7 linked regions of the Homo sapiens genome follow. The protein of the gene in region 5 purifies or fractionates together with the protein of the main gene of each other region. This does not show direct contact. Each region holds a gene or a part of one and is shown on either strand. Other genes may lie near its edges. The genes, in order: DNAAF5, CIP2A, BRAT1, THADA, FPR1, URB1 and INTS2.

Region 1 (3,500 bases), on a different chromosome or scaffold from region 5:
TCAACAAGCACGCCCTTTTATGGTTGACATGCCGGCACCCTACCTCCAGCGCCTGGGGGCTCTCCCTGCAAGGGCTCTCCCATGGCTGCTGCCCCTCGTGAGCCGTAGACTAGGAGCCCCGGGCGGGCTCTGTCGGCCCTGACACTGGGGCCGGAGCGGGAGCCCTGTATTAGTCCATTCTCATGTCGCTAATAAAGATCTACCACAGACTGGGTAATTTATAAAGAAAAAGAGGCTTAATGGACTCAAAGTTCCACATGGCTGTGCAGGCCTCACCATCATGGTGGAAGGCAAAGGAGGAGCAAAGTCACGTCTTACGTGGCGGCAGGCGAGAGAGTGTGCAGGGGAACTGCCCTTTATACTAACATCAGATCTCGTGAGACTTAATATCAAGAGAACAGCACGGGAAAGACCCACCCCCATGATTCAGTTCCCTCCCACAGGGTCCCTCCCAGGATACGTGGGGATTATGGGAGCTACAGTTCAAGATGGGATTCGGGTGGGGACACGACCAAATTGTACCAAGCTCTGACGGTGCTGCCGGTCTCTTCCAGGACCTCTACCTGGAGCGCCTGCTGCTGTGTGTGCAGGCTCTGGTGTCTGTGTGTCATGAGGACTGTGGCGTGGCCAGCCTGCAGCTCTTGGACGTGCTGCTGACAATAGTGGCCCTCGCAGGTGCTACCGGCCTGAGGGACAAGGTAAGGCTGACAGTGGTGGCTGCTGCTTGACCTAGCGGAGCTCACAGCTGGAAGGCATCTCTAAGTGAGGTGAACTGTCTCCTATGCATCCCCTCTGTGCTTGACCAGCAAAGACCAGGGATTGAGAACCTTGCGGGTGAGTCCCCGGGCAACGGCCTTCGGGGCAGCTCTCCAGCTGCCAGTGTATTCTGGCATCAGGGAGTGGAGACAGCTGTTTAATGTTAGGGTCTTCAGCAAAGAAGCAAACAAGAAATAAGACGTAACCTTTAAACCTGCGCACTTGAGTAGGGTTTAATAGTGCACATGTCGCTGGGCGTGGCATCTCACGCCTGTAATCCCAGCACTTTGGGAGGCCGAGGTGGGCGGATCACCTGAGGTCAGGAGTTTGAGACCAGCCTGACCAACATGGTGAAACCCCGTCTCTACTAAAAATACAAAAAATTAGCCAGGCGTGTTGGCATGTGCCTGTAGTCCCAGCTACTCAGGAGGCTGAGGCAGGAAAATTGCTTGAACCAGGGAAGCAGAGGTTGCAGTGAGCCAAGATCGTGCCACTGCACTCCAGCCTGGGCTGAGCAACAGAGCGAGACTCCGTCCAAAAAAAAAAAAAAGTGCATGTGCATGTGTGACTGAGTCGAGAGAAGATACCGTGATTTCCCGCTCTCATTGCAGCACAGCGTTCAGAAGTACTTCTCGCCCATGGGCTCCCTGTTTATGCCCAAAAATCATCTTTTTTCTTCAGTGGAGTCTCGCTCTGTCACCCAGGCTGGAGTGCAGTGGCGCGATCTCGGCTCACTGCAACTTCTGCCTCCCAGGTTCAAGTGATTCTCCTGCCTCAGCCTCCTGAGTAGCCGGGATTACAGGCGCCCACCACCATACCCGGCTAATTTTTATATTTTTAGTAGAGACAAGGTTTTGCCACGTTGGCCAGGTTGGTCTCAAGCTCCTGACTGCAGGTGATCCACCTGCCTCAGCCTCCCAAAGGGCTGGGATCATAGGCATGAGCCACCGCACCTGGCCATTATGCCCAAAAATCTTTTAACCCCAACCTTCTAATGGGCTTCTAGGGCCCCTGGAGGCCCCAGTATCTGTCTGCCTCTCTGGAAGCTGAGACTTAGTTCCTCCTCCCATTCTGTCTCTGTGGACAGCCCCTCTCGGCAGATTCTCTCTCTGGGAGATTTACGGCCTGAATGTACTATGGGGAACCTGGTGTGGAGGAGGCTGCTGCCCTCCCCTTCCTTCTTGGGGCCTCTAAAAACAAGCTTCCCAAGGGGCGTGTGTCTCAGCAGATGCTGTCACTGTTAGGGCCTGAGGTACCAGCAAAAGCAAAGTCTTTGCCTGCTGGTCATGGGGGACGAAGCCAGGTAGCCCCAGATTCAGACTCCAGGCTTGGGGCAATGGCCACCGGGGAGCCTCAGCCCTTCCTCTGTTCCTAAGCCCCCAAGGAGAGCAGCCAGCTAAAAGTAAAAGGTGGCCAAGGTTATCATCTCTGTCTGCCCAGTTACTTTTACCTGGAGGTCTGGTCTGCTGGGCTTAACTCTTTAAGCCACTTGCCCGCCCCTCTCTGCTCCTCACCACCTCAGAGGAGCCCTGCCTGCCCAGGCGGACACCACGTCCGTGTAAGCCCCAGGACCACCTGTGCTGTGTGCATCCCAGTGTGCACAGTGCCTGCTTCATGATTCGCTGCAGAGACGGCGTTGGTGTGAACGGGATCAGGGTCTCGCCCTGCACCCGCGGCTCTCGCTCTCCTGCACCCTGGGCGGGGCTCCCTGTGGCAGCCTCCCTCCCGATTATCCTGGCAGGCCCGGCCTGTGTGGTTCTTACGCGTGAGGGGGATAGTGAGTCCCAGCAGGCAGGCAGGCTTGAGCCCTGAGTGTTGGAATTGTCTCAGTCTCTGACTTGTAACCTCCAGGCACAGGAGACGATGGACTCACTGGCCATGGTGGAGGGTGTCAGCAGCTGCCAGGACCTCTACCGCAAGCACATTGGTCCCCTCCTGGAGCGGGTGACCGCGTCGCACCTTGACTGGACCGCACACTCGCCGGAGCTCCTGCAGTTCAGTGTCATCGTCGCACAGTCAGGTGAGCCGTCCCGACAGCTGGCGTGCCGTGCCTGGCCCCACTCAGGCTACACACCTGCTCCCCCAGGTGCTCAGCAGGTACCAGCGCCGACCAGCTGAGCTGTGGTTCACTGAAGCGTGTTGTTAAAAGTACCCAATAGTCACTCTTGCCTGGGGAGAAGCAGCATTTTAAGGAGCATCGCATTGAAGACTGTGGGACGCAGCTCTTCCACTTGGCCCGGGCACACGCTTTCATGTGAAACCTTCAAAGTGTGCTTTTCCGTGGCCTGTTTTGTAGCCTGGCTTCTTAAATACGTCTGGATTTTGTTGCAGAATCTAGATGTCTAGCCGCATGGGTGCTGTGTGTGTGACATGGGGGCCTTAGCCCCAGCCCCTCTGAGACCAGCATTTCTGTGGTTCTCTTTGAGCCTGCGGATCAGCCACTTTTCCTGGGATGGACAGTGTGGCCCAGTGGGGCTTCAGCGCGGGGCAAGATCCACTGCAGAACCCTAAGGAGACGTCCGCTCAGCAGCCATAGTGCCTTGGGACACACGGCCCGCGCTGCTCCACGGGCCGTGAACTCGCCGCGGTAGCTCTTCCTCGTTTGCCTCCCCGGCCCTCCCGCTCCCGCCTGCAGCTCCGAGTGCCCCCGCCTCCTGTTGGATGTGTGCACCAGGGTGGTCGTGCTCTGCATCTGAGGATGCTAAGATCGTTCTTACACAATCTCTGTGCCTGGTAGGGACTCA
Region 2 (3,500 bases), on a different chromosome or scaffold from region 5:
TATTTCACTAAGCACAAAGATTTTTAAAAAGCAACCCAAAAACCAAACCAAAACAAACAAAAAAAACCAGTAGCCAAACTTGGCCAGCAGTTTTTGTATCTAATCCATACAGGAATTTTAACAATCTGAGTTTGAGTGCCTTTAGACAGTCCTGACCATTACAAATGACCTTTTCCCCAGCCAGCTTCATTTACATGTTATCCACTTGTCCATTCAAGGAATTTCACCTTCTAGCCCCTAAATCACTAGCTGGAACATAAGCAGGTCTTAGAAACCACGTATTTTTCTTGGACGCTGCCTATCTCTTAGGTTCTCTATGTGAGACAAAGCAGGTATCCCCTTTTTAGGAGGTCTGAGGACCTCAAGCTGGAAAATAAAGGAAAATCCTGAGTTCACTCAAGGGAAATTCCAGGGACCTAGATAGCCCTAGAAGTAAATAAGTAACTTGTTAAACAGGAAGGTAATAGTAGCCTAAATCAAAGTTAACAAACTTAAGAGTACCAGTGATACTTGATTCTTTATAGAACTTAAAGAAAACAACTTAACACATGTCCCTGAGTTGTATTTCAGAGACCCGGACCCTCATTGAGGAAGCCCACTGACCAGATCCATTGACAAGTAGAGCTCAGGTAAGGAGAAAATGAAGGCTGAATTTTAACCACTGTTCTTTGTTCTAAGTTTCTTTCTCAGGGTCTTGAACAAAGTCACTCTCCCTAGCTAGTTAACATTTTTCTACTGACCCCAAATGTTTAAACAAAGCTGCTCTTCCTTAACCAACTGCAAATCGAAAAATCTTTGGGTCTACCCATGACCTGTAAGCCCCTGCTTCACAATATCCTGTCCTTTAAACTTAAACCAATGTATAACCTTTAACTATTTATTTATGATTTTTGTCTGTAACTTCCACTTTCCTGAAATTTACTCGCCTTTAAAAATCCTTGCTTGCAAGCTATTGGGGAGGTCAGTATTTGAGCATTTGGCTGCCTGCTCCTCCTTACTTGGCACCCTGCAGTAAAAGCCTTTTTTTCTATCACTGCAAACCTTGGTGCAGATACCTGGTTTTACTGTATTGAGCAAATGGAACCCATTTCAGTTCTATAACGTATTTTCTTCACTGCTGACGTTCTCAACTTGGCTTATCACTAATACTACACTTTATCAGTGGTGCCTCAAACAATCAGACTTTGTAAAAAGTTGCTGGGGTAAATATCCTGTTAAAAAATCACTTTGTCATCATTTTCTAGATACTATTCATTTCTCACCCTTCATTATTATTGATGGGAAATAAGCATATGTACCATGCCAAGCTAAAAATTTCTATATCTCTGTATTAACAACATAGAACAATCTTAAAATATAAAGCAATAAACAAGTTCCCCCAGAGTGTATTTACTTTTATGGGTTGGTAGAAAATACATAATTGTTCCTGGTCTTCCCTGTAATTCAGAAGTTTTACAACTGGCCTAAAAAGATAAAAGAGTTTATAAGGGAGGAAAAACCAATCAAACTTTGCTAGTAGGCACACAAATTGGTACAGGTTGAGCAACACTAATTTGAAAATCCAAAATCAGTCTAAAATCAAAAGTGCTCCAAAATATTAAACTTTTTGAGTGCTACCATTGTGTTCAAAAAGGACACTCAATCTGTATCACATTTTGGAGGAAAATTTAGAAATATCTATCAAAATATTAAATATACATACCCTTTAACTTAGCAATTCACCTATGTGAACTTATTCTACAGATGTAATCACACATGGAAGTAAACTATAATCAAGGATATTAAGAGATGAGTTAAACACTTACACCTAAATTTCCATTCTATTAGGCAGAATGATATGAAATTGCCAATATTCAACTACTTTTGATCTGCAGAAATGACCATTCAACCTAATACTAATTTGACAACTAAGTTTATTTAAAAATTATTAATGAAGTGCCTAACTATGCAGCAAGCACTCCTACAGGCCCTAGGGATCTGTCAGTGATCAAAACAGACAAACTTGTCCTTGTGGAGCTTATCTCCCAAATGACTGCTGACTGTTATGAATACATAAAAGAAGTCAACTGGAAAGACCTGTATTTTGTTTCCAACATTGATACTGAGTTTGAGGAAGCAACACTTCATTTCACAATGACTTAAGTTTCTTGCTAATTACTTACCTCATGTGTTATCAGAATATATGAAATGCTTACAAAAGGATTTTCGGGTCTCAGAAAAGAAATGCTGCATGTTCATTCTAGGTTCTAACCTTACACAGAAGATTTTACTTTATTTACCTCTGAAGAAGTTCCATGTAGGATTTTGTCAGTATTTCATGTTCTTCAGCCACAGACTCTAACTTCCTATTATGTTGAAAGAGATGCTCAATATCACTCTGCGCTCTTTCTGATTCAACTTGCTGCGCCTTCAGCAACACACTAAGCTCTTCATTTTTTCTCTCAACTTCTCTCAACATACTAGCAAGTGTCCGTGCCTCAAAAAAAAAAAGAAGATAGACTTTACCACTATCATCTATATCATATGCTCAACACATACCTACAATTTAAAAGTTTACTAAGTATCTAATAAGCTGGTATCTGTTGGGTCATGCAAAGCTGTATTAGTCACATATACTTAGGACTTTACTTCTAATAAGTTGGATACTGTTATATTTTTTTAACTTAATACATTATCTGATAAAAACAATCTCACTATGATCAAATTAATGGAAATGGATACAACTGCAGCAACATGAAGGTCGCGCTACATACAGTATTCAATTAAAAAGGTATGGTCCTCAGAGGTAGCCATTAACACTAAACTGCTAAGTGTGCACACCATCAGCATTCTCATTTCAGGTGAGAATTAAGAACAAAATCTTAACGACATCACAGATGCTTAATCAAACACTTAAAATTAAGCTAGTATAATCAAAGAATGTAACCTATACCATAACCTGCATGTATTTATTATGTGATATGAAACACTAAAAAAGCAGAAAAGTCGCTAGAATAAAAAGTTGGTTCCCCCCAGCCCTTTGGATTTTATTTTACAATGCTAGACAAAACCCTAAGCCTTTCTCTGTTTTTACGACTTTGTGAAGAACCTGTATCCAGTTATTTAGTGCTATTTTTATAAGAACTTTTCCAGTAACATGAATAAAATATTAAACTCTCTAATAAAATACAAGACATGTCCAACAGACAGAAAATATAAGAATGTGCTATGGGGAGAGGGAAAAATTATTTTAATATCACTAATGTTCTTTCTTGTAATTTGTGACAAATTCAACATACCAGTTAAGACAAATGAAACCATGTTAAAATAAGCAAAAAAGAAAGAAATATGGGGGAAAAAAAGAATACCATTATTCTGAAGAGACTTAAGAGGCATTTTACTAGTCACTTATTTTGATGCATCTTTCAAAAGCCAGGAACACTTTATTATAATTCATTCATTATAAATAATATCAAGTTGTATAGATTCCATTTGTATCTGCTGGGAATTTCATATTACTG
Region 3 (3,500 bases), on a different chromosome or scaffold from region 5:
TGTTGAAGGGTTTTGAAACAAAACAGAATTAAAATACTAACGACAATAATAGAAGGTTGTGATGGCCTGAAGTTCAAGTGCTCTGAGGTCCTTCGGTTGCCTGGATAGAGAATGGAAAGTCTAATTAACTTCAGACTTTTTAAAAAATCCGGTTCTCATGTTAAAAATATAAGGGTAGCCACTGAAGAACACAAATAAGCCTGTGGTCCCAGCATCTTGAGAGGCCGAGGTGGGCAGATTGCCTGAGCCCAGGAGTTTTAAGACCAGCTTGGGCAACACAGGAAGATCCCCTCTCTATAAAAATTCGCTGGGCATGGTGGCGCGCATCTATAGTCCCAGCTACACTGGAAGCTGAGATGGGAAGATCACCTGAGCCCAGGAGGTCAAGGCTGCAGTGAGCCGTGATTACACCACTGTCCTGGACAACAGCACAAGAACTTGTCTAAAAAGAAGAACATAAATAGAATGTATAACTTCAAAACCAGAAGAGGAAAGATTTAAAAGAAAAAAAAAAGCTTTATCAATCTGATGGAGGGCAGAAAAGGAGGATAAAGGCACAAAGGTAAGGCACAGGAAATTAAAAAATACAAAAGAATTCAAATCTAACAGTCGCCTCAACAAATTAAAGAGATCAAACTTATCTGTTAAAAGAAAGAGTTGCTGAGATTAAATTAAACACTAAAAACAAGCAATGTGGTGTTTCTAAAAGCAATAAAATGCAACGACAGGAAAGGCTGGGAGCAGGAGAGAAAAGACACAGTAGGCAAATTCTAACTTTAAAGAAGCTGATGTAGCAACAGAAATAGCAAACAAAATGGGCTGTAAAGCAAAAAGCAGTATTCATGCAGAAGTAAGTTAACTGATCACGGAGATAAATTCCAGAAAGACACAACATTCCTACATCTATGTATACCTAACCTCACTTCAAAACGTGTAAAGCAGCCTGGGCAACGTGGTGAAACCCCGTCTCCGCAAAAAAATACAAAAAATTAGCTGGGTGTGGTGGTGTGTCCCTGTAGTCCCAGCCATCCAGGAGGCTGGGGTGGGAGGATCACTTGAGCCCAGGAAGTTGAGGCTACAGTGAGCCGTGATCACACCACTGCACTCTAGCCTGAGTGACAGAGTGAGACCCTGTCTCCAAAAAAAAAAGAAAAAAAAAATGCCAGGCACAGTGCCTCACACCTGTAATTGCAGCGATTTGAGAGGCCAAGGCGGGCAGACTGCTTGAGCCCAGGAGTTTGAGACCAGCCTGGGCTACATAGTGAAACCCCGTCACTACAAAAAATACAAAAACTTAGCCGGGCGTGGTGGCGGGCTCCTGTGGTCCCAGCTATTAGGGAGGCTGAGGTGAGAGAATCATCTGAGCCCAAGAAGTCGAGGCTGCAGTGAACCGAGATCATGCCACTGCACTCCAGCCTGGGCAATAGAGCAAGACTCCATCTCAAAAAAAAAAAAACAAAAAAAAAAAAAGAAAGAAAAGAAAAAGAAAAAAATAATATGTAAAGCGAAAAAAAAAAAAAGGATGCATCTCAAAGAAAAATCATGAATCCATGATCTTGGTGTAAGCTTTTTACACACCTCTCAGAAACAAGCAAACAAATTAGCAAGAACATAGCAGGTCTGAACTAATGAACGAGTGTGGAAACTACACTCTTTCCATCAAGTACAATGCAGGAGAAATGACAGAGGCTGGGAGGGAGGAGGAAACAGGGACTCACTGTGAACCCAGACTCGGTTTCTTTAGGGGGAACAAAATTAGATTGTGCTGATGATTTCAGAGCCCTGTAAATTTACTAAGAACTGTTGAATTGGTACCATTTATTTATTTATTTTGTCCATTTCTCATGTCAGACGGGTCACGTACCGACATCATACCAGGGTTCCATGGTGCCACATCTCACACATGCGCCTGAACACTCAATTATCATGCTTAGGTTGGGTGCAGTGGCTCTCCACTGTAACCCCAGCACTTTGGGAGGCCAAGGTGGAGGGATCACCTGAGGTCAGGAGTTCGAGACCAGCCTGGCCAACATGATGAAATCCCACCTCTACTAAAAATACAAAAATTGGCCGGGCATGGTGGCATGCACCTTTAATCGCAGGTACTCAGGAGGCTGAGGCAGGAGAATCGTTTGAAACCCAGGAGGCGGAGGTTGCAGTGAGCCAAGATTGTGCCATTGCACCCCAGCCTGGGCAACAGAGCAAGACTTGGTCTCAAAAAAAAAAAAATCTATATCTATATATATATCTATATATAGATATATATATATCTCATGCTTACAAACTGTAAAAGGATCTGGTACACCTTAAATGGGAGAATGGCATGGTATGCAAATTATATCTCAATAAAGCTACTGAAAAATACTTCTTAAAATTTAAATACAGGCCAGGCATGGTGGCTCGCTCCTGTAATCCCAGCACTTTGGGAAGCCCAGGCGGGAAGACTGCTTGAGCCCAGGAGTTCCAAGCTGGCCTGGACAAGATGGTGAGACCTCATCTCTATGGGAAAAAAAAAAATAGCTGGGCCTGGTACACACCTTGATCCCAGGAACTCAAGAGAATGAGGCAGGCGGACTGCCCAGGAGGTCAAGGCTGCAGTGAGCCGTGTTCACGCCATTGCACTCCATCCTGGGTGACGCGCAAAAACCCTGGCTCAAAAAAAAAAAAAAAGAAAAAGAAAAACTGACTACTACAAACTAGGCCACAGTTGAAGACCTTCAAATACCAAAACATCAAAATCATATAGTGAAATCTCTAGAACATTGAGAAAACTCGCCTGGGTCCTATGTCTCAATAAAAGTCTCAACAGCTATAAAGATTCAAAACATATGTTATGTTTTCTAACCTCCACAAAGTAAATTAAAAATCAATAATAAAAAGACTGGAAAAATCCATATTTTGAAACTAAAGGATACTCTTTTAAGTAACTTGTGGGTGAAAAAAAAATTATAATGAAAAGCATAAAATACTCAGAACTAAATTAAAACCAAAGTACTGCAATGTAAAACGTGTAAGATGTAGCTAAAGTCATACTTTTAGAGAAATGCATAGTCTTAAATATATATATATATATATATATATATTTTTTTTTTTTTTTTTTTTTTTTTTTTGAGACAAGAGTCTCACTCCATTGCCCTGGCTGGAGTGCAATGGCGTTATCTCGGCTCACTGCAACCTCTGCCTCCCAGGTTCAAGTGATTCTCCTGCTTCAGCCTCCCGAGTAGCTGGGATTACAGGCATGGACCACCATGTCAGGCTAATTCTTGTATTTTTAGTAGAGACGGGGTTTCACCATGTTAGCCAGGCTGGTCTCCAACTCCTGACCTCAAGTGATCTGCCTGCCTCAGCCTCCCAAAGTGCTGGGATTATAGGCATGAACCACCGTGCCTGGCCTTAAATATATATATTAGAAAACAAGGAAGACCTAGATATTTAGCTCAAAGAGGGTAAAAGGCACTTTGGGAAGCAGAGGCAGGTGACTGCCTGAGCCCAGGAGATCG
Region 4 (3,500 bases), on a different chromosome or scaffold from region 5:
TCCAGATGGCATGGTACTATTAGTGTGTAGTTGTGTAGTCTCTGAGTTGGGTTGTTTAGCCTGTTATGAACCCGTTGATTTGTTAAGTATCGATAAAAGCAAACTCAAGAGAATAGCATTAAAAAAATATTTTTTTTCATTTTTGCAGAAATCAGGACACGGTAGTACCTCCTCTTAGTCTAATGAGTCACTGAGGTTAGTTTGAAGTATTTTATCTTTGGAAAAACTATCCCAGTTTTTTTGTGTGTATGTTCACTAAAAGGAAAGTTTGCTGTATTTTAAAATACAAAGACTGAGTCATAGTAGGTAAAATAACTTCAGTCAGTAATAAGCTTCAGCTTAAAACATTTTTCTTCTTCAAATCAGAAATTCTTAGACAGTGATTCTCATTCTGGAGCAGTTTTGCTCCCCAGGGGACACTTCACAGTGTTTGGAGACATATTTTGGTTGTCAGAACTTGGGAGGGAGGAGGGTGCCACTGGCATCTAGTGGGTAGAGATGGGGATGCATGAAACATAATGCATAGGATGATACTGTTCAACAAAGAATGAACCCAGCCAAAAATCATAGTGCTGAGGTTGAGAAACCTTACATTAATGCCTTAAAGTCTTCTTTCTTGCAGTGACTACTATTAATTCTATTTAAAATGGGTGTAAAGAAGAAGAAAGAAATGCAAGTTGCTGCGCTGACCATTTGCCATCAGGACCTTGAAACTTTGAAATGTAGGTGACTTCTGGTTTCCCTTATTATATTTTTTTCTAGTTTGCAAGCAGAGTATTTTAATGACTGGGACCCCTAGCATATAATATTCAAATTCTTTATATTTTTCCTTATGTTTTGGATGTAAAACAATTTTCTTAAAATTCTGTCTTCAGACTATGTTCCACCTATTGCTATGGTTTATAATTAAAAAATTTTGTAGAATGCACAACAAAGGCAAAGTTAACTCACTGTTAAATCATTGAAAATTTTTTTTTGTATATGTTATATAGCTTTTGCTGATGTGGAAGGGAAAAATCTAGCTTCTTTGCTGTTACATTGTGTGCAACTCACGGATGGAGTGTCACAAATCCATTATATTAAACAGGTAAGTCTGAATTGATATTCATGGATGCATCTTTAAGAGTATCATGCTATTAAGGATTTAAAAAAAATCACTGACAGTTTTTGGTCCCTAATTATTGCATATCAGTTTATCATTAGCAAATAAGTATTTTTTTTTTTCTGTTTATTGTATAATATCCTTGTATTCAAAGCAGCAATAGAAGCCATATTCAGACTTCTATCATAATTGAACTGTAAACAGATAAGGTAGAAGATAATGTGCATACCTCTTTTGTGGAGATAAATTTTAAAATATATGAATCTTCAAAACTTTTTAGCAGACACATTTAAAAGTTAATTTAAAATATAAAGATTATACTTATTAGTATTTCAGTATTAGGATTTACCATTTGAGCACACATAGTTTTTTTTTTTGGAAAGCAAGTAAATGTATTACTGGTTTTTTAATAGTGCTACAGCTGTTCTTTACTGTAAGCCATTAACAGGTCTGTGATTCTCTGTGGAGGTGGGTCTGGAGGGTAAAGAGGGAGGTGGGGACATGAGTTTAAAAAGTTAATAAATAGTGAAATAGGTGTTTAAATCAGTATCCTTGACAGTGGAGTATGGAAAACATTTCACGTAATTGACACTTTGTTTTATTTATTTTTTTGAGATAGGGTCTCACTCTCTTACCCAGGCTGGAGTGCACTGGTGTGATCTTGGCTCAACCACAGCCTCAACCTCCTGGGCTCAAGCAATCCTCCTGCCTCAGCCCCCTGAGTAGCTGGGACTACAGGCATGTGCCACCATGCCTGGCTAATTTTTGTATTTTTTTGTAGAGACAGGGTTTCACCATGTTGCCCGAGCTTGTCTCGAACTCTCCTGGGCTCAAGCGATCTGCCCACCTCAGCCTCCCAAAGTGTTGGGATTACAGGGGTGAGCCACTGTACCCAGCAATTGAGACTTCAAAGAGTATCTGTAACCATGTTACTTTGCTATATTTGATATTATAAAAATTACTTCAATGTTTTGTATTATAGATTGTGCCTCTGCTGGAGAAAGCAGATAAAAATGGCATGTGTGATCCCACTATTCAAAGTTGTTTGGATATCTTAGCAGGCATTTATCTTTCTTTGAGTCTAAAGAATCCCTTGAAGAAAGTATTGGCAAGGTAAGAAAAAAAGGAAGGGAAGTTGGGTGTTATAAATGTTGAATTTGACCAAAAGTAACTGAAGTTCCTTCCTTGGTTTGATAAAACTGAACTGATACAGATCACAAAAAGTTCATTCATATGGTTTGTTCTCTGTTTCATTGATTAGTTACAACTATTTTTTTTTTTTTTTTTTTTTTGAGACGGAGTCTAGCTCTGTCGCCCAGGCTGGAGTGCAGTGGTGCGATCTTGGCTCACTGTCAGCTCTGCCTCCCGGGTTCACGCCATTCTCCTGCCTCAGCCACCACACCCGGCTAATTTTTTGTGTTTTTAGTAGAGATGTGGTTTCACCATGATAGCCAGGATGGTCTTGATCTCCTGACCTTGTGATCCGCCTTCTCAGCCTCCCAAAGTGATGGGATTACAGGTGTGAGCCACTGCGCCCAGCCTAGTTACAACTTTTTAAAAGTATAAAAAGCCTTCTTAGGTCACATGCTTAATAAACAGGCTGTGGGCTGTAGTTTGCTTACTCCTGCCTCAATCCATTTACATTTATTGGTTATGTTTAAATGTCATCTTGCTGTTTTTTCCTCTTTTTGTCCTATCTGTTCTTGGTTTAAATATATATTTACACAGATAACACAGGAATATAGGCTTGGTATAAAAATTTCAAATGATATAGAACTATACAAAATAAAAACTAAGGCTTCCATTTCATTGTTTAGGGCTTATCTTACTTTTCTTAGTAAAGATTGTCACTTACCGTTTTGGTATTTATCTTTCTAGACCTTCTCTTTGAGGTCAGCATATGTGTGTTACATTCTACTTTTTTTATATATATCTGTAAACGAGATTATACTCTACAGAATGCTCTGTAGCTTGTTTTTTCACTAAAGAATGTCTTAGAGATATTTCCATGTCATAAAATCCTAATTGTAGTAAAAGACATATAACATAAAAACTCAGTCTTAACCTTTTTTTTTTATGAATTCTTTTTTTTTAAATTTTAATTTTCATTTCGATAGGTTTTTGGGCAACAGGTGGTACTTGGTTACATGAATAAGTGGTGGTTTCTGAGATTTTGGTGCACACATCACCTGAGCAGTGTATACTGTACCCAACAATTTGTAGTCTTTTATTTCTCACCCCCTTCCCACCCTTTCCCCTGAGTCTCCAAAGGCCATTGTATCATTCTTATGCCTTTGCATCCTCATAGATAAGCTTCCACTTATGAGTGAGAACATATGATGTTTGAGTCTTAACCATTTTTAAGTGTACATAGTTCGCTATTGTTAAGTGTATTCAT
Region 5 (3,606 bases):
GTCCACGTTTGTGTGACACTAGGTCACTGAAGCTGTCGCCCACTGATTTTCTGATATCTTATGCTCTTATTTTTCCTTTATTAAATTGATGGTAAAATACAAAAAGTTAACCATTTTAGGCTGGGCACAGTGGCTCACGCCTATAATCTCAGCACTTTGGGACGCCGAGGCGGGCAGATCACCTGAGGTCAAGGAGTTTGAGACCAGGCTGGCCAACATGGTGAAACCCCATCTCTACAAAAATATAAAAATTAGCTGGGCATGGTGGCAAGTGCCTGTAATTCCAGCTACTCAGGAGGCTGAGGCAGGAGAATCACTTAAACGCGGGAGGCGGAGGTTGCAGTGAGCCAAGATCGCACCACTGCACTCCAGCCTGGGTGACAGAACGAGACTGCGTCTCAAACAACAATAAAAAAGTTACCCATTTAAATGTACAATTCAATGGCATTAAGTACATCTACAGTGTGTTGCAACCATAACCATTATCTAGTTCCAGAACTTTTTAATCACACCAAGCAAAAACTGCATATTCATTAAGCAACAATTCCCCACTTCCTAGTTTCCCCAGTCCCTGGCAATCACTAATCTGCATTCGGTCTCTGTGAGTTTGGCTACTCTGGATATTTCATACAAGTGGAATCATACAAAATGTGACTTGTGGTGTCTTCCTTCCTTCTCTCCTTCCTTCCTCCTTCTTTCCTTCCTTTCTTTTTTCTTTCATTTTAGAGACAGGGTCTTGCTTTGTTGCCCAGGCTGGAGTGCAGTGGCTCAATCATAGTACACTATTAACCTTGAATTCCTGGGCTCAAGTGAGCCTCCCATCTCACCCTTCTGAGTAGCTAGGACTACAGGTGTGTGCCACCACATCCAGCTAATTTAATTTAATTTTGTTGTTGTTGTTGTTAGAGATGAGGATCTTGCTATGTGGCTCAGGCTGATCATGAACTCCTGAGCTCAAGCAACCCTCCTACCTCGGCTTCCCAAAGCTCTGAGATGACAGGCGTGAACCACCACATCCAGCCCTCTTTTGTTTAGAGTAATGTTTTCAAGGTTCAGCCACGTTGTAGCATATATCAGTGCTTCATTGTTTTTTATGGCAGAATAATATTCCATTGGGTGGATAAACCACATTTTGTTTATCCATTCATCTGTTGATGGACATCTGGGTTGTTTCTACCTTTTGGCTATAGGGAGGAGTGTCTCTATGAACATTTTTGTTTGAATACATGTTTTCTCTATACATCTTTGGCCCCATATTCTCCTCTTGGAGGTCAAGGACCCTATCTTCCTTAGCCATTTAATCTCCCTGGTAGGGGCTTGCATGTTAGCAATTATGAGGATGTGTCATAAGATGCAATCTTGGCCACACGTGGTAGCTCACGTCTGTAATCCCAGCACTTTGGGAGGCTGAGGTGGGTGGATCACCTGGGGTCAGCAGTTCAAGACCAGCCTGGCCAACATGGCAAAACCCCACCTCTACTAAATATACGAAAATTAGCCAGGAGTGGGGTGGTGCATACCTGTAGTCTCAGCTACTCAGGACGCTGAGGCAGGGGAATTGCTTGAACCCGGGAGGTGGAGGTTGCAGTGAGAGATCACGCCACTGCACTCCAGCCTGGGTGACAGAGCAATATTCCATCTCAAAAAAAAAAAAAAAGATGTAATCTTGCCCAACAGGTACAATAAAAGATTGCCAATGTATAGATGTGGGCATGTGTAAGGGACAGTGGTGAGGATGTTCCGGCTGTTGTGGGAGCTCTAGGGGAAGGTGAGAAAGCTAGGAGTGGGAAAACTGGCAGGGGCAGAAATGAGGGGGTGGGGAAATGGTACGGAGGTTCATAACTGAGGAATGACCACGACTGCACTATTTCAGGAGCAGACAAGATGGAGACAAATTCCTCTCTCCCCACGAACATCTCTGGAGGGACACCTGCTGTATCTGCTGGCTATCTCTTCCTGGATATCATCACTTATCTGGTATTTGCAGTCACCTTTGTCCTCGGGGTCCTGGGCAACGGGCTTGTGATCTGGGTGGCTGGATTCCGGATGACACACACAGTCACCACCATCAGTTACCTGAACCTGGCCGTGGCTGACTTCTGTTTCACCTCCACTTTGCCATTCTTCATGGTCAGGAAGGCCATGGGAGGACATTGGCCTTTCGGCTGGTTCCTGTGCAAATTCGTCTTTACCATAGTGGACATCAACTTGTTCGGAAGTGTCTTCCTGATCGCCCTCATTGCTCTGGACCGCTGTGTTTGCGTCCTGCATCCAGTCTGGACCCAGAACCACCGCACCGTGAGCCTGGCCAAGAAGGTGATCATTGGGCCCTGGGTGATGGCTCTGCTCCTCACATTGCCAGTTATCATTCGTGTGACTACAGTACCTGGTAAAACGGGGACAGTAGCCTGCACTTTTAACTTTTCGCCCTGGACCAACGACCCTAAAGAGAGGATAAATGTGGCCGTTGCCATGTTGACGGTGAGAGGCATCATCCGGTTCATCATTGGCTTCAGCGCACCCATGTCCATCGTTGCTGTCAGTTATGGGCTTATTGCCACCAAGATCCACAAGCAAGGCTTGATTAAGTCCAGTCGTCCCTTACGGGTCCTCTCCTTTGTCGCAGCAGCCTTTTTTCTCTGCTGGTCCCCATATCAGGTGGTGGCCCTTATAGCCACAGTCAGAATCCGTGAGTTATTGCAAGGCATGTACAAAGAAATTGGTATTGCAGTGGATGTGACAAGTGCCCTGGCCTTCTTCAACAGCTGCCTCAACCCCATGCTCTATGTCTTCATGGGCCAGGACTTCCGGGAGAGGCTGATCCACGCCCTTCCCGCCAGTCTGGAGAGGGCCCTGACCGAGGACTCAACCCAAACCAGTGACACAGCTACCAATTCTACTTTACCTTCTGCAGAGGTGGAGTTACAGGCAAAGTGAGGAGGGAGCTGGGGGACACTTTCGAGCTCCCAGCTCCAGCTTCGTCTCACCTTGAGTTAGGCTGAGCCACAGGCATTTCCTGCTTATTTTAGGATTACCCACTCATCAGAAAAAAAAAAAAAAGCCTTTGTGTCCCCTGATTTGGGGAGAATAAACAGATATGAGTTTATTATTGACTTCTTTTTTGATTTTGGACCTCAGCCTTGGGTGGTCAGGGTGGGAAATGATAGGAAGAAGCTGTCATCTGCATCCTAGTTTGCCTGAAATGAACCCAAATAATACCCATTATTATTAGTCCTGAATTATGAGTAGTGAATGATACCCATCATTCTGGCATCATGATGAGTAGTGTCCACTTCCATTCTGAAAAGTGCCCTGCTGTGAAAAATAAATTATATAGTCATCCTAGGTAAATGAAGGAGGAGGGAGAAGTGTGAAAGAGTATGGCTTAAATCAGACAAGATATACAAGAAGATACTTTATATAGGGCAGGAGCGGTGGCTCATGCCTGTAATCCCAGCACTTTGGGAGGCCGAGGCAGGCGGATCACCAGGGGTCAGGAATTCGAGAACAGCCTGGCCAACATGGTGAAACCCTGTCTCTACTAAAAATACAAAAATTAGCTGGGCGTAGTGGCAGGCTCCCGTAATCCCAGCTACTCAGGAGACC
Region 6 (3,500 bases), on a different chromosome or scaffold from region 5:
GATTAATCCACAAGGACATTATGAACACACTTAGAAACCATGAAGGCAATAAGGAATGAGACAAACTGAGTGCCAATGTGACTCCCAGGTTTGACTACTGAGTCTGGCAATGACTCGTCTGGATCCCCATAGAGCTTTTGTTCCCTCAACTGTAGAATGGGTATAACAAGAAAAACCATATAGAGCATGGTAACGAAACATTACCAAGAGCTTTACTTACATGACATCAGCTAATTCTCACTGCAACCCTCCACCCTAGGTATGAGTATTTTTTTCCCTAGGTACTAGTATTTCACAGATGAGAAAACTGAGGCCCTTGTCCAAAGGTACACAGCTTAGGAGAGGTAGAGCCAGGACTCCAATCCAGGCAGTCGGGCTCCAGAGCCCATATTCTCCCTCCACGAACTGGATGATTCCTGCTCATGCAATGGAGCTGATGCCTGTTGCTCTGAGTGCACTGGCACACAGAGTGTCCGTGCTGCACCTGGCCCACAGTCAGTATGCCAAGCATCAGTTGACATCAGTGCTCTTTCAAAACCCAAAGGAGGGCACCCCACTAGAGTGTTTCCCCATAAGGCCACCCCAGAAGTTCCCCACTCAAAAATCTCCCCTCTCAACAGCCTGAGGATTCTACTACCCTTCCTGCAATTAATACAACCTCCCCTCCCCTACCACTGACACCTGAATCTGAACCCCCACCACAACCCCACCCTACCAACTGGGAGCCACCTGTGTGCCGCTGCCCACAGAATTCTCCTGCCAGAACCTGTTCTATAAAACTGCCTTTCAGAGAATCACTTGAACCTGCCTCTCGGAGAATCACTTGAATCCGGGAGGTGGAAGTTGCAGTGAGTCGAGATCGTGCCACTGCACTCTAGCCTGGCAACAGAGTGAGACTCCGTCTCAAAAACAAAACAAAACAAAAAAAACCCTGCCTCTCTCTGGTTCCACTCTTTGGGCCATACTTCTCAAAACTAGGAAGGCAGGGCATGGCAGTGGGTTGGAAGCCGCATGAGAGCGTAAGCTAAAGGTAACACATCTTACTGAGGCCTTCATCTCTTCTGGGGAGTGAAGACTTCACCTTATTCAAAAAAAAAAAAAAAAAAAGCAGAGGAAGGGACTAAATATTTCTATTAAAACCCACTTAGTAATGACCAATACAGTAAAATGTAAAATGCCACAAACTTTAAGAAATACACTACAGTCTTCATAGACACATCAGAATAGCGTGGTCTGCTTTAGGGAGTGTCTGGGCATCCCTAAGGGGTCCTTCCTTCTCTGCCTTGGGGCCACAGGCAATGGATCTAATCCTTCTTTCCCACACCAGCTGCCATCACCCTAGTCAGCACCTCTGAACACCAAACACTTCCTTTAACCTCTCTCCAGAAATGAGAGTTTCGAGATCCTTCTGTGTTCAGGTCACTCTCTATGTTCCCTTGAAGCATGAGGCCCAGAACAGGGCTTGGTACTGCAGGTGAGCTCCACTAGCTGAGCAGAGAGGACCAACACATGCTTCCTCTTGGACAGCAATTCTGCGTGTCTCAGATTCAAGTCCTGACGCTGCTAAGCCACATCTGCCGGGGACGCATGAGCACGCCATTACACCAAAAACATACCAGAAAAGAACAAAATTGGAGCCAGACTCCTGGGCACAAATCCCCGCTCAGTCACTTACTAGCTGCATGGTACTCAGTAAGGCACTGAACTCTGAGCTCTGGGTACCTCACCTGTATAACGGAACAAGAACAGAACCTACCTGACAGGGTTTGTATGAAGCGTAAAAAGGCTAATTTACACATAAAGCATCCAGCATCACACTTAGGTCAAGGTAAACCCTCAAAACATAAGCAGCCCCCCGGGTGTCCTCAGCAGCAGCAGTGAAAATCCAGTCACATTCGGCCTCTGCCAGCCTCACAGGTGTTTTCAGATCCCCTTTTATGCTGCAACATTTTCCGCAGCAACCACCGCCATTCCTTTAACAGTCACTGAGCAAGTGCATCTGCTATGCCAGGCGCTGCTCTGAGCTTCGGGGCCAGACTCCATTGCTGCCGTCTGCAGCGTGGTCTGGTGGTGATTATGAGCAGGCCATGGGTGTTCTGACCAAGGTGACTGTGAGTTACAGGAGCTCAGTCGGCACAGGCACCCTGGAGTTATGCATACCTACTCTGTCCCTCAAGAAAACACAGAATGCAAGTGATAGCAAGGGCTGTTAATACAGAAAGAGCAGTGCAACTACTCACTCTTTTTTAAGGAATTATTCGTCAAACTCTAGCATGTAACTCTGAGCATTCCAGAGTATTACAGGGTGGAAACTGCTGGCCTGTTATGTTTGCCGTCTTTACAGGTTCATCTTTCCATACACCATTTACTGGGCACCTACCAGGTGCACCTACAGGGGGTGCCCGAGACGTGCTGATGAGCAAATTAGAAATGGCCTCTACCCACATGGTCCTTACAATCTAATGATAGAGACCAATGTGAGTATTTATTAAGCACCTACCGCAATCACTTACATAGACACGTATAGCACCTGTAGTAAGTGCTATGAAGCAAACATCAAGAGTATAATGAGGACTGTACCTAGGGAACATGATCTAGATTAGAGGGTTGGGAAGGTTTCCTTTGAAGAAGTAATGCTGAACCTATTATTAATAATAGTAAACGTAAGTATTGAGGGGGCAGAGGGTGAGACCACATTCCAGGCCCCAAGGCTGGAGGGTACACTGGAGCCAGGTGAGTGGGGAGGGGTGACTGAGTGAGTGGGGGAGGGCAGCCTGAGATGAAGTCAAAGAAGCAGGCAGGGCTAGATGAAGCAATGGAAATGACTTTGGATTTTATCCTAAGGGCAGTGGGATACCACTGAAGGGTGTCATGAGAGGAGTGACATAATCAGATTTGGAGCTCTGAAGGATCATTTGACTGCTGCACACAGCACGGGCTGCAGGGAAGCAACAGCAAGAGAGACCAACTCTGGGCAACTCCAGCCACGGTCCCAGCAGGGACTGATGATGCCTGGACTAGAATGATGATGAAGGAAAGAGGGGGAGCAGACAGATTCCAGAAATTCTCAGGAGGAGAATCAACCACCAAGGCCAGGGGACAGACTGATGCAGACGGAGGGTTCTGGCAGGAACATCCAGCTAATCAGAATTACCACTTATGCAGTGGGGAAACCAGAAGCAATGTGGGGAGAAGGAGATCAAGAGTTTAACCATTAGTGTACTCTCTTACAGTATGGCCTTTTCTCTATCACCAGTGGAGTCGTGGGCAAACACTTTCAAAGGAACTGGCTTAGAGCCAAACCCTTCTTGATGGGGGATCTTCCCACAGGCTGACACTGATCCACTCTGGAATATCCTCAGTCCTTACCAATCTAACCTGGCAGCTCTTGTTCCTCCACTACACGAAGGGAGCATCATCAGAACCCTTCCCTCACATGCCTGGTGAAAACAAAGTCTCCTAACAGCCATCAACTTCACTTCCCTGATCTTCCAGCAATC
Region 7 (3,500 bases), on a different chromosome or scaffold from region 5:
ATTCAGCATTGCTGCTCCTAACTCAGGTAAAACAGGAGAAATGTTGCTGTGTGTGTATTAAACTCAAAAAAACAACATGAAATCTGAGATGGCATGAGAGATGAAAGGCAACATGCTTAAGTGGTCTTTAAGATAAGACAAAGAAAAGACTTCAGCTACTACTCAATAGCAAACCCATCAGGCTGCTTCTGAAAGACAGGAGTCCCAAGTATTATATGAAATTACCATGAAAAAAGTAACTCCTAAATAAGACATTGTATACTTAAATATATTTGTGAAAAATGCAACTGTTTTTCCCTTCTAACAAACTGGGGAAAAAATACTTTCATCAAATTTTCCCTGAATGAGCCAGGAGCAGTGGCTCATACCTGTAATCCCAGCACTTTGGGAGGCTGAGGCAGGCAGATCACCTGAGGTCACGAGTTGGAGACCAGCTGGCCAACATAGTAAAACCCTGTCTCTACTAAAAATATAAAAATTAGCCAGGCGTGGTGGCAGGTGCCTGTAATCCCTGCTACTCGAGAGGCTGAGGCATGAGAATCACTTGAACCCAGGAGGCAGAGTTTGCAGTAAGCTGAGATCGTGTCACTGCACTCCGGTCGGGGCAACAGAGTGAGACTCTGTCTCAAAAAAAAAAAAAAAAATCCCCCTAAATGAATGTAGGTGTATCTTAGATTCCCAGGATGCTAAACAAACCTATGCTGAATATCTTGATATCCCACACAGTACTTGATCAAATACACAATCTCCAGGGAACCCATTAGACTTTAAAGTGAAGCTTAAAAAAAAAAAAATTACTGGCCAGGCGCAGTGGCTCACACCTGTAATCCCAGCACTTTGGGAGGCCAAGGCAGGAGGATCACTTGAGGTCAGGAGTTTGAGACCAGCCTACTCAGGAGGCTGAAGCAGGAGAATCGCTTGAACCCAGGAAGCGGAGGTTGTAGTGAGCCGAGACTGCCCATTGCACTCCAGCCTGGGTGTCACAGCAAGACTCCAGTCTCAAAAAAAAAAAAAAAAAAAAAAAAAAAAGGCCAGGCACAGTGACTCACACCTGTAATCCCAGCACTTTGGGAGGCTGAGGCAGGTAGATCACCTGAGGTCAGGAGTTCGAGATCAGCCTGGCCAACATGGTGAAACCCTGTCTCTACTAAAAATACAAAACATTAGCCAGGCGTTGTGGCAGGCGCCTGCAATCCTAGCTACTCGAGAGACTGAGGCAGGAGAATCACTTGAACCCGGCAGACAGAGGTTGCAGGGAGGAGGAGGTTGCAGTGAGCTGAGATCGCGCCACTGCACTCCAGCCTAGGCAACAAGAGTAAAACTCCATCTCAAAAAAAAAAGTGCCTGTTTAGCAAACTACTTGGAACTAATACCATTCTTTTAATTTTTAGAGGTGATCTAAGGAAATTTAATCTAATTTTAAATTCAGAACTACCTAGAAGTCCTCTGATAGGAAAATAAAAATATGGGTTAAGTAAGAAGAACTAAAAGAAAAATAAGTTAATAGATATAAAAGAACCACTATTTTACCCCAATGACTCCTTGGAAAATATTGAGTATCTCCTGTTCTGTGACTGGCTGATTTGTGGCTTCTGGATTAGATTTCGACGCAGGAGTAAGTATAGAATTTATGTACACATCAATCAAAGGAAGTAATTGAGGATGAAGTGGAGTAGAGGTTTCACACAGCTGTCTATAAATCCAATCCTAAGAAAGAATGTTATAGACACTGAATTAATTGTGGCAAAAAGAAAAACCAAGCAAAATTATAAAAGTACATACAGTTTTACATGAATTATGAATCAGTAAAACTCACTATTAACTTTTGGCAGTTCCAAATATATTATCTAGTATCATAACTGCCTTTGATTTTAAAATATGAACTACCATTATATCTGTATCATCTTAGGTGCACCCTCCACTAGAAGCTTGCCTTTCGGTTTAATCTATTAGTTTTTAAGTAGTGGGAAAAACATTTTAAGTCCCTACCATATCTGTATTTAGAGCACCATGTGTGTCGTCATGGGAGAGCTCACGTTAGATAGGAATTTGGAGAGAGAGAGATAGGTCCTTCACAGCAAACCCTCAGATAGACTAAGAAAATGTCTCTGAAAAGCACTTACAGGAGACTTATCACTTAACTATCATTGGATGGAGGACATGTAAAATGTTGGGGGTGCATGTGAACTCTTAATTCTTAGCTATTTTACTTGCTAAAAATATAAAGCAGATGATGCAATCTGGCTGGAAAATAATCTCACTAAATCACAAAAAACAAGCAACAATTAAAAAGTGATATATCATGCATATATTATTCACTGTTCTTTGTAAATATCTGAAAAAGTTTCAGTCTACTTTACCTCCTGGGTCTTAATACCTTCTCTTTAGAGGGCCTTTTAACTTGTTAGATATAGCCAACTAAGACAAATCAAAACATGTCAAAATTCTAAGTTAGGTGTGAGGTGTCCTTATGACAAATCAACAAATACTAGTCATGGCAGCTTCCCCAATTTGTAAAACAAAACCAGGCCCACTGCAGTGGCTCATGCCTGTAATCCCAACACTTCGGGAGGCCGAAGTAGGAGAATTGCTTGAGACCAGGAGTTCAAGACCAGACCAGCCTGGGCAAAATAGCGAGACCCTGTCTCTACAAAAAAACACTTTTTAAAGCCAGGTATGAGGCCAGGCACGGTGGTTCATGCCTGTAATCCCAGCACTTTGGGAGGCCGAGGTGGGTGGATCACGTGAGGTCAGGAGTTTGAGACCAGCCTGGCCAACATGGTGAAACCCTGTCTCTACTAAAAATTAAAAAAAAAAAAAAATTAGCCAGGCATGGTGGCAGGAGCCTGTAATACCAGCTACTCAGGAGGCGGAAGCAGGGGAATCACTTGAACCCAGGAGGCGGAGGTTGCAGTGAGCTGAGATAGCACCACTGCACTCCAGCTTGGGCAACAAAGTGAGACTCCATCTCAAAAAAAAAAAAAAAAAAAAAAAGCCAGGAGTGGTGGCTCGCACCTGTAGTTCCAGCTACTTAGGAGGCTGTGGCAGGAGGACTGCTTGAGCCCAGGAGTTTGAGGTTACAGTGAGCTATGACAGCCTGGGCGACAGAGTGAGACCCTGTCTTTAAAATTAAAAAAAAAAATTAGAAAATGGCAGTTTCTAAGTTTTAATAAAATAGCCATGTGCCACTATTGAGAATTTAAATGGAGTATTATGCATTTTGAAAATCTTACATTGTTTTAAAAATCTGAAATTACTGTATAATTATATAATTATAATTACTATCCCTAATTACTATACTTATATAAATGACTAGTAACTTAGCTTAATACCACACATTTCCTACACAAAACCCACAATAAATGCCTACAAACTGAAATACAACTGGGGAGAAAGCATTAATTTAGGTTGTTCTTTGAAATATAAATGTAGGCCAGGCACAGTGGCTCACGCCTGTAATCCCAGCACTTTGGTCGGTTGAGACAGGCATATCACTTGAG

The links.
Region 1: the proteins of FPR1 (region 5) and DNAAF5 purify together in Homo sapiens (co-immunoprecipitation; 2 studies listed by BioGRID and IntAct, with this or other methods). This does not show direct contact.
Region 2: the proteins of FPR1 (region 5) and CIP2A purify together in Homo sapiens (co-immunoprecipitation; 2 studies listed by BioGRID and IntAct, with this or other methods). This does not show direct contact.
Region 3: the proteins of FPR1 (region 5) and BRAT1 purify together in Homo sapiens (co-immunoprecipitation; 2 studies listed by BioGRID and IntAct, with this or other methods). This does not show direct contact.
Region 4: the proteins of FPR1 (region 5) and THADA purify together in Homo sapiens (co-immunoprecipitation; 2 studies listed by BioGRID and IntAct, with this or other methods). This does not show direct contact.
Region 6: the proteins of FPR1 (region 5) and URB1 purify together in Homo sapiens (co-immunoprecipitation; 2 studies listed by BioGRID and IntAct, with this or other methods). This does not show direct contact.
Region 7: the proteins of FPR1 (region 5) and INTS2 purify together in Homo sapiens (co-immunoprecipitation; 2 studies listed by BioGRID and IntAct, with this or other methods). This does not show direct contact.

What each region holds. Positions count from the first base shown.
Region 1 is NC_000007.14:761,199-764,698, forward strand, and holds part of DNAAF5 (dynein axonemal assembly factor 5), read left to right. Parts: intron 1-554; coding exon 555-698; intron 699-2,607; coding exon 2,608-2,776; intron 2,777-3,500. UniProt on the Homo sapiens protein: Cytoplasmic protein involved in the delivery of the dynein machinery to the motile cilium.
Region 2 is NC_000003.12:108,554,939-108,558,438, forward strand, and holds part of CIP2A (protein CIP2A), read right to left. Parts: intron 2,477-3,500; coding exon 2,280-2,476; intron 1-2,279.
Region 3 is NC_000007.14:2,549,025-2,552,524, forward strand, and holds part of BRAT1 (integrator complex assembly factor BRAT1), read right to left. Parts: intron 1,942-3,500; exon of another isoform or gene 1,846-1,941; intron 101-1,845; exon of another isoform or gene 42-100; intron 1-41. UniProt on the Homo sapiens protein: Component of a multiprotein complex required for the assembly of the RNA endonuclease module of the integrator complex.
Region 4 is NC_000002.12:43,589,539-43,593,038, reverse strand, and holds part of THADA (tRNA (32-2'-O)-methyltransferase regulator THADA), read left to right. Parts: intron 1-148; exon of another isoform or gene 149-195; intron 196-622; 5' UTR 623-646; coding exon 647-722; intron 723-992; coding exon 993-1,087; intron 1,088-2,084; coding exon 2,085-2,215; intron 2,216-3,500. UniProt on the Homo sapiens protein: Together with methyltransferase FTSJ1, methylates the 2'-O-ribose of nucleotides at position 32 of the anticodon loop of substrate tRNAs.
Region 5 is NC_000019.10:51,745,273-51,748,878, reverse strand, and holds the end of FPR1 (fMet-Leu-Phe receptor), read left to right. Parts: intron 1-1,873; 5' UTR 1,874-1,884; coding exon 1,885-2,937; 3' UTR 2,938-3,106; downstream 3,107-3,606. UniProt on the Homo sapiens protein: High affinity receptor for N-formyl-methionyl peptides (fMLP), which are powerful neutrophil chemotactic factors. Binding of fMLP to the receptor stimulates intracellular calcium mobilization and superoxide anion release.
Region 6 is NC_000021.9:32,386,513-32,390,012, forward strand, and holds part of URB1 (nucleolar pre-ribosomal-associated protein 1), read right to left. Parts: intron 1-3,500.
Region 7 is NC_000017.11:61,889,983-61,893,482, forward strand, and holds part of INTS2 (integrator complex subunit 2), read right to left. Parts: intron 1,708-3,500; coding exon 1,531-1,707; intron 1-1,530. UniProt on the Homo sapiens protein: Component of the integrator complex, a multiprotein complex that terminates RNA polymerase II (Pol II) transcription in the promoter-proximal region of genes.